Linked DNA regions of Homo sapiens. The protein of the gene in region 1 interacts with the protein of each later gene in a pairwise test. Each region holds a gene or a part of one and is shown in the gene's direction. Other genes may lie near its edges.

Region 1 (3,810 bases):
GGATTTGGAATGGAAAGTATTAAAGCATATATTATACATGTTCATGATTGCACATGCCTAATTTACTTAATTGCTTGTTTCTTTACCATTCATTTACATTTTCAAACTTTTTATTAAAACATTCTGAGACAGTGACTGTCATTTCAGTAATGTAATCTTTGATCTGTGTTTTCTGTGAAGTAAATAAAATTTTTGTGATCTTTAGATAGCATGATTTCTATTTTAGAATTTATGTGCAGAAAAAATGAGTGTCTAACTTTTTTCTTGTTTATTTGTAGTACACTTATAAAAATGACTGAAAATAGTGAAATTGAAATTTAGGATTATTGTCATTTTCTTTTTTTGTTTTTAGTATGTGTACAATCAACAGTAGTGTACCTTTTGGGATGTAGAAATTAATGTTAATTGGTCATTATTCTTCTGTGAGAATGCTCAGATTTTCTGACTTTTGGATATTATTCCTGTGTATCAGAAGTGAGAATTTATCTGGTGATCGGTAAAGTGGTCTATTTTTGTGTTTTCAGATATGATTCATCAACTTCCACTGTTGACAGAAAAACAGTACATTGCAACAATTCACTCTCGTCTTCAGGACTCACAGCTTTGGAAACTGCCTGGGCTCCAAGCCACTGTTAGACTTGCCTGGGCGCTGGCATTGAGGGGAATATCCCAGCTACCTGATGTGACAGGTGAATTGATTGTAGGTAATTTTGTTATGAGAAACAGCATGTTAGCACTTAATGACATTTTTGGAAGGAGTATTATCTTTGACATACATAAGCATAAGCATAGGAAGATATCCAGAGTTGTATTAAATGAAACCTTTAGTGTAGTAGTGAAATACAGACTTTTTTCTCCTTGTCTCTCAAAAATATCATATGAAATACTATTTCCCATTCTTGGAGCCACTGACAATGCTCTTTTACCTTCAGGGTATGAGTTTAAAATTTGGAATGACAGTGTCACATTAATTTTTTTTTTTTTTGAGATGGAGTTTTGCTCTTGTTGCCCAGGCTGGAGTGCAATGGCACAGTCTCGGCTCACTGCAACCTCTGCCCCCCGGGTTCAAGCGATTCTCCTGCCTCAGCCTCCCAAGTAGCTGGGATTACAGGCATGCGCCACCACACCTGGCTAATTGTGTATTTTTAGTAGAAATGGGGTTTCTCCATGTTGGTCAGGCTGGTCTTGAACTCCCGACCTCAGGTGATCCGACTGCCTTGGCCTCCCAAAGTGCTGGGATTGCAACACGTGAGCCACCCCGTCCGGCCTTAAATGTTTTTTAAAATTAAAATATACTATTCCTTTTATTTTTATATATTTTACTTCTTGATTTGTTCACAAACTAGTTTTTCACATTGTGTCAAATTAAAAACAGTTATTTTTCCATACAGTGTATTAAAAAGGAGATATTTGGATCAGTCAAGAACAGATGTGGAATCCCGACTTTTCTTTTTTGTGGCCCAGGCTGGAGTGCAGTGGCTCGATCCCGGCTCACTGCAACCTCCACCTACTGGGTTCAAGTGATTCTCCTGCCTCAGCTTCTTAAGTAATTGGACTACAGGCACACGCCACCACACCCGGCTAATCTTTTGTATTTTTAGTAGAAACAGGGTTTCACCATGTTGGCTGGGCTGGTCTCGAACTCCTGAGCTCAGGTGATCCACTTGCTTTGGCCTCCCAGAGTGTTGGGTTTACAGGTGTGAGCCACCGCGCCTGACCAGAATACTGACTTTTAACAACCTGTTAACTCACTGTAGCATATATTATTCTGCTATTTACATTTACATTATTTAATTGTCATATTAGTAGGGGTTTATTCTAACAGAATGAGAACCATACATGGAACACGAAGCCCAAAGAATTGTCTTTTTATGGTAAATCTAGAAAGGCTTTATTCAAGTTTACAATTTATGTCAGTTTTCTAATCCTAAAGTATCAACAGATTCTAGTATCTTATCAATCGTGTAATTCCAGAACATTTTGTTTTCACTAGTGTCATGCTGTTCCCAAGGTGTTTGCAGAAAGCTTTTTTTGTGTTAGGAGTCTTTCTTTGGCCAGTTAATTTCTATCTGTCTGTCATCTATATATCTAAATGCTGATAGCGAATTAGACTTTTACATTCCCGTACAAATTCTGTTTCTCACCTGTACGTACCCTCATCATTTATAAGTCTTATTTCACTACTTTTCTGACATAAAGTTACCCTTTAACCTTTGAAGTGGCTATGTGATAGTTAATATCTTCTTTTTTTATTTTGGAGATGGAGTCTCGTTCTGTTGCCCAGACTGGAATGCAGTGGCATGATCTCAGGTCACTGCAACCTCTGCCTCCTGGGTTCAAGCAATTCTGCCTCAGCCTCCGGAGTACCTGGGACTATAGTCGCACGCCGCCACACCCAGCTAAGTTTTTGTATTTTAGTAGAGACAGGGTTTCACCGGGTTGCCTAGGCTGGTCTCGAACTCCGGAGCTCAGGCAATCTGCCTGCCTTGGCCTCCCAAAGTGCTGGGATTACAGGCGCGAGCCACCATGCCCAGGTGTGATAGTTAATATATTAACTATATAATATAGTTATACATAGATAGTTATTATAATATTATGTAATATGGTCACAATCTTATGCTATAATTGCCCATACCACTGCACTAGTTTTGAAAGGTTTAATAGAATATGCTATAGTTTGCTGTAGAATAATAGTAAAAATAGGTTAGGAATCACAGCCCTAGTTTCAAGTCCCAGATCTTTGGCTACTTAATCTCTTTGATTTTATATGCTCATATCCTTTTATAAGCTTTAATAGTTAGGGGTATTATAATTAGAATTTTTAAACTATAAAAATTTTTCTGTTAATTTGCATTTTAAAAATTGTTAGAAAAAATGACTAGCTTGTGTTATTTTGCAGAAATGGTCACTTCTTGAAATAATCCAGACAAGTTTTAACGAAGATCTCCAATTTGAAAAATTGGTTTCTGTTCTCTTCATAGACTTCTGAAACTTTTATCAAATGTTTTTATTATATTATTCTATAAAAGGCATGAAGCCAGGTGCAGTGCCTCATGCCTATAATCCCAGCATTTTGGGAGGCCAAGGTGGGAGGATTGCTTGAGCCCAGGAGTTCATGACAAACCTGGGCAATGTAGTGATACCTCATCTCTTCAAAAAATTAAAAATTAGCCCAGTGTGGTGACATGCCCTTGGCTGTAGTCCCAGCTACGCAGGAGGCTGAGGCAGGAGGATCACTTGAGCCCAGGAGAGAGGCTGTAGTGAGCTGAAATTGCTCCACTGCACTCCAGCCTGGGTGACAGAGTGAGATCACATCTCAAAAAAAATTAAAAAAACAAGCATCGGCCGGGTGTGGTGACTCACGCCTGTAATCCCAGCACTTTGGGAGGATGAGGCAGGTGGATCGCTTGAGGTCAGGAGTTCAAGACCAGACTGGCGAACGTGGTAAAAGCCCATCTCCACTAAAAACACAAAAAATTAGCCAAGCATGGTGGCGCGTGCCTGTAATCCCAGCTGCTTGGGAGACTGAGGCAGGAGAATTGCTTGAACCTAGTGGGCAGAGGTTGCAGTGAGCTGAGATCATGCCACTGCACTTTAGCCTGGGTGACAGAGTGAAACTCTGTTTCCAAAAAAAAAAAATCAACAAAAAAACCAAGCATTTTTGTAATTTCACTAAGCTTTACAGAATTTTAGCATACTGTTTTTAGGCATTGAAACTCAATTTATATTAAGACAATGATGCCTTATTGCCTAAATGGTCTTCAAGAAGTAATTTTTGGCTGGGCATAGTGGCTCATGCCTGTAATGTCA
Region 2 (4,394 bases), on another chromosome or scaffold:
AGCCGCAGCGGGCTTGGGCCTCCTTAGAAACGGTCTAGCCTCCTCACTCCTCCACTCCAGGGCGCTGGGCTCCAGTCCTTTCCCCGCCAAACTCCAGCCCTTCGGAAAGTCTGAACCCTAGGCTCTGTCCAAGGAAAAATGTGGGGCGACAGGAAAGACAAGTTGTTCTCCAGATTCCGTTTCCTGAGGAAGGGGTGGAGAGTTTAGTTCGCTTTGGAAGAAGGCGATGGAGAAACGGAAATAACTGTTTGAAACATACGGTTCCCCTTATTTCTTCCTTTTATTTAAAAACAACCACAAAAATAGACTGGTCTGTCTTCTTTCAAACATGCTCCCAGCCCGTGCGCTCTGTAAAGGACGCTTCTCTGGGTCGGGTTTTGTTGCGTCTTGTGTGCTGGTTTCCCGTGTGATACGTGACTCCTCCAAACTGACCGAGGCTCCGCAGGTTCCCTCTTTCTTTCCCGGAATATTCCCTGTTTTAGCGGGGGCAAGGTCAAGCGGAAAGCGAGGACCGCCAGGGCCTGAAGTAAAGCAGCAGAACCGGCTCCAAGGCCAAAGCCTTGTGGGCCCCTGAGATGGTGACCCAGGAGCCGCCCACCCTGCCAGGCCCAGGCCACAGCTCTCGGGTCGGGGATCGGGTGCCTCTGGTCTCTGGCTTCCTCTTTCCCCTACCCCGCGTCCATTCGGAACCTCCTTTTCCGAGCAGCCATGAAGTGACCGTGACCCCCTCCCTGGCCCACCCTAGAGGCTGGAGATTCCCAGTCAACCCCCACAGGAAACTTGCAACTCCAGCGCCGCGGCCCCCAAGCTTCCAGCCCCGAGGGCCAAGCCCGGGGAAAAGAGGAGGCGGGAGAGCAGAAACTTTAGTCCTGTTTGGTATTCCTTAACTTTTTTTCCCCTTTCTCTGCTCATCAGATCCCCCCAAACCCCCCCCCCCACAAACCTCACCCCACTCCCATCCCCAAGGTAAGAAGTGGGAGTCGGGTCCGGGGATATGGAAAGGGGAGATGAAGAGTGGGGAGAAGTACCTGATTCGTGTCTCGACCTTTTAATTTGAATTTGACTGTTTTGAGCCCCGGGTTGCCTCGCTCTCTCCCTCTCTCCCGCATTTCCCCCCTCTCCGCCCCCTTCTCCCCAGGAGTTACAGGCTGGTTACTGGATAAACAAACCCCACTCTTCCTAGAACCCCCACCCCCACCCCCACCCCCCTCCACCCCTCTACCTCCCCTGCCGCCCGGGGGGCGCTTCCTTTGTTCGCGGGGAAGGGCTCCGGTGCCCCTACCCCGAGGCAGCTGCTAGATGGCGCTGTTACTCCACTCTGCGCGCTCCGCCTGCCGACAACTTGACCCCGCTGACGTCACGGCCGTCTGAATCATCAAGGCCATTTTCAAATCCCATTGGTCTAGCCGTCACATGGTGAGAACCGAATGCGCGGATAATTACGGAGCTGATATTTCCCCCCCTCCCCTTCTTTTTCCTCCCTCCCCTCCAACCGCGCCCCCCCTCCCGGATGGGGAAAAAAAAAGATGTCAGCTCCTCCGCTGTAGTATTGCTCCTTAAAAACCCCTCTCTCTGAAAATGACATGCCCTCGCAATGTAACTCCGAACTCGTACGCGGAGCCCTTGGCTGCGCCCGGCGGAGGAGAGCGCTATAGCCGGAGCGCAGGCATGTATATGCAGTCTGGGAGTGACTTCAATTGCGGGGTGATGAGGGGCTGCGGGCTCGCGCCCTCGCTCTCCAAGAGGGACGAGGGCAGCAGCCCCAGCCTCGCCCTCAACACCTATCCGTCCTACCTCTCGCAGCTGGACTCCTGGGGCGACCCCAAAGCCGCCTATCGCCTGGAACAACCTGTTGGCAGGCCGCTGTCCTCCTGCTCCTACCCACCTAGTGTCAAGGAGGAGAATGTCTGCTGCATGTACAGCGCAGAGAAGCGGGCGAAAAGTGGCCCCGAGGCAGCTCTCTACTCCCACCCCTTGCCGGAGTCCTGCCTTGGGGAGCACGAGGTACCCGTGCCCAGCTACTACCGCGCCAGCCCGAGCTACTCCGCGCTGGACAAGACGCCCCACTGTTCTGGGGCCAACGACTTCGAAGCCCCTTTCGAGCAGCGGGCCAGTCTCAACCCGCGCGCCGAACATCTGGAATCGCCTCAGCTGGGGGGCAAAGTGAGTTTCCCTGAGACCCCCAAGTCCGACAGCCAGACCCCCAGCCCCAATGAAATCAAGACGGAGCAGAGCCTGGCGGGCCCTAAAGGGAGCCCCTCGGAGAGCGAAAAGGAGAGGGCCAAAGCTGCCGACTCCAGCCCAGACACCTCGGATAACGAAGCGAAAGGTAAGGCCGCCTGGGCCGCGGGCGCCACTGGGACGTTCCGGCACTTGGTCTTCGCGGCCGGGGAGGGGGGCAGGGGAGAGGGTTGGGCCCAGGAGGCCCCAGACCATTTCGGGAATGCGACCCTGGCTTTCGACTAGCGTCCGCTGAGCTCCAGGCTGGTGGCGCGTCACTTAGCTGGGGAAGGTAAGCGGCGACGTGGAGGTGTCGGCCCTGCCCCGGCCATGGGTGCTAAGGCGGGGGCGGTGCGCACCGCGGGCCGCCTGCAGGCGCAGTGTGCTGCACCGGACGGGTGGCTGCTCCCAGGCGCGTGCTGGCTGTGGTTTGCTTTCTCAATGCTGGTGTCCTGGGGAGCTGACGTCCCCCAGCTCAGGTCAGGGGCTTGCAAAAAGCCTAAAATGGCGATCTTGGGCCAGGGACTAGGGAAGGCTGGGGAGATGGGGGGAGTTCTCTTTACTGCGTTTTCCCAGTTGAAAATTGTTTCCTGCGAAACGCGATTTGTTGTTTGTGGGTCTGATTTGTGCGTGCGGCTTGGGCTCCTGCGGCTTTTGGCTCGGCCGGGGGCCTTGGGCAGCGAGGCTGGAGCCGGAAGAGGTGGAGGTGAAGGGCTGCCCGCCACGTCCCTCCCTCCTCCAGATGCCTGGCTTGGATGGCGTTGGAACAGGGCATTTGGAATGTTGTAAGTTTTCTGTTTCCTCTTTTAATTTTTTCTTTTCCATTTTTTTCTAGTTAAATTATCTTTTTTCATTGGTTTCCAAAAGCAGCTTACAAATGAGTGGTTGGGAAATTTCTGTGTGCGTGGCAAGAGGTTTTCTCCTGAAAGGGAATGTGGCTTTGGTTGGATTTCACTGTAATTTTGGTTGAGAGAAAGCCCAGCCAGAGTTCAAGCTCAGGGTTCAAGATTCATTTCTGCTGTAGGAGCTGGGGGCCTTCGGGATCTTTCTCTGATACTTGGGGAAAGAATGTGGAGGAAACGGGAGCAGGGGAGGAAAAGCTGAGGGGAACGACTTTTCCTGAAAAGTTGTAGCAAGAGCCTCAGAAAAAGGCCCAACCAACGGGGAAGAATAAACCTGCTCCCCACAACACCGGCTACTGGTGACAGTATATAAGGGGCTCATTGGGTGTAGAGGAAGATGAAATACTGAGAGCGGAGCAGGCTGGGGGCGGCCTGGATCTCCTGGTGCTTTGTATATGGATGCGACGCACACGCATGCCTACGGGCGACCTGTGCCACACTCACGCACATCCATATTGCATGATCCTTGCACACTCACGCATGCCCGCTCACACATGCACAGGCACTCTTTTGGCGGGCAAGGGCAGAGCCTCATCCCCTTGGGTCTGCAAAGGTGGTCTTGGTAAATCATCCCCATAGAGACACTGACTGGAAGATGAGCGCTGGTGTGTTCATGAGGATAAGGGGGAGAGTGAGGCGCCTACAGCCTCAAAGCCTTTCGTTTGGCACGTGTGCAGTGTGAAGGTTTAATCTTATACCCTCTCTACAGACCCTGAGCTTGGTTAGGGAGCAGATTTGGGGCAGGAAAACCTGCATTCTAGCCCCCACCAAAAGCAAAGTCAAGGTTAACAAGTTCACCTCTTAACTCGACCTGCACCCATTCCCATAGGCTCTCCCTTTCCTCTAGCTGTCCCCACAGCAACCTAATCCCTCCCACCCCAAGGAATCCCTCTTACCCTGTACCCTCTCTGTGCCCTTCTTTCCTCTCCTCCTGTTTTGATGTCTCCACCAGGCCAGAGGCAAGAGAGCTTTTGATTAAACTTCCCCATTTATAATTTGTCTTGTCCCCCCACCCCACCAAACCTAACAACTCCAGTAAGAAAATAAACAGGACGTAGTTAGATGTGGAGAGCTTGTAAACAATCTGGCAAGAAGCTGCAGGTGCAGAGACAGGAGAGAAAATTCGGGACATTCAGATTTTTTTAGACTGCAACCTCAAGTTTGCCTTTTTTGTGTGTTTTCTGGTTCCTCTTAGGCCCCCGCCTCACCCCGCCCCCAACAAGATAAGATCCAGGAACCTGGCAGCCTCATTGGAATAGGGAGGAGAGAGAG

What was found.
Region 2: the proteins of NUP205 (region 1) and HOXC10 interact in a two-hybrid assay, tested with the Homo sapiens proteins (one large-scale study listed by BioGRID and IntAct).

Annotation. Positions count from the first base shown.
Region 1 is NC_000007.14:135,578,227-135,582,036, forward strand, and holds part of NUP205 (nuclear pore complex protein Nup205), read left to right. Parts: intron 1-524; coding exon 525-689; exon of another isoform or gene 690-700; intron 701-3,810. UniProt on the Homo sapiens protein: Plays a role in the nuclear pore complex (NPC) assembly and/or maintenance. May anchor NUP62 and other nucleoporins, but not NUP153 and TPR, to the NPC.
Region 2 is NC_000012.12:53,983,682-53,988,075, forward strand, and holds the start of HOXC10 (homeobox protein Hox-C10), read left to right. Parts: upstream 1-1,464; 5' UTR 1,465-1,578; coding exon 1,579-2,329; intron 2,330-4,394. UniProt on the Homo sapiens protein: Sequence-specific transcription factor which is part of a developmental regulatory system that provides cells with specific positional identities on the anterior-posterior axis.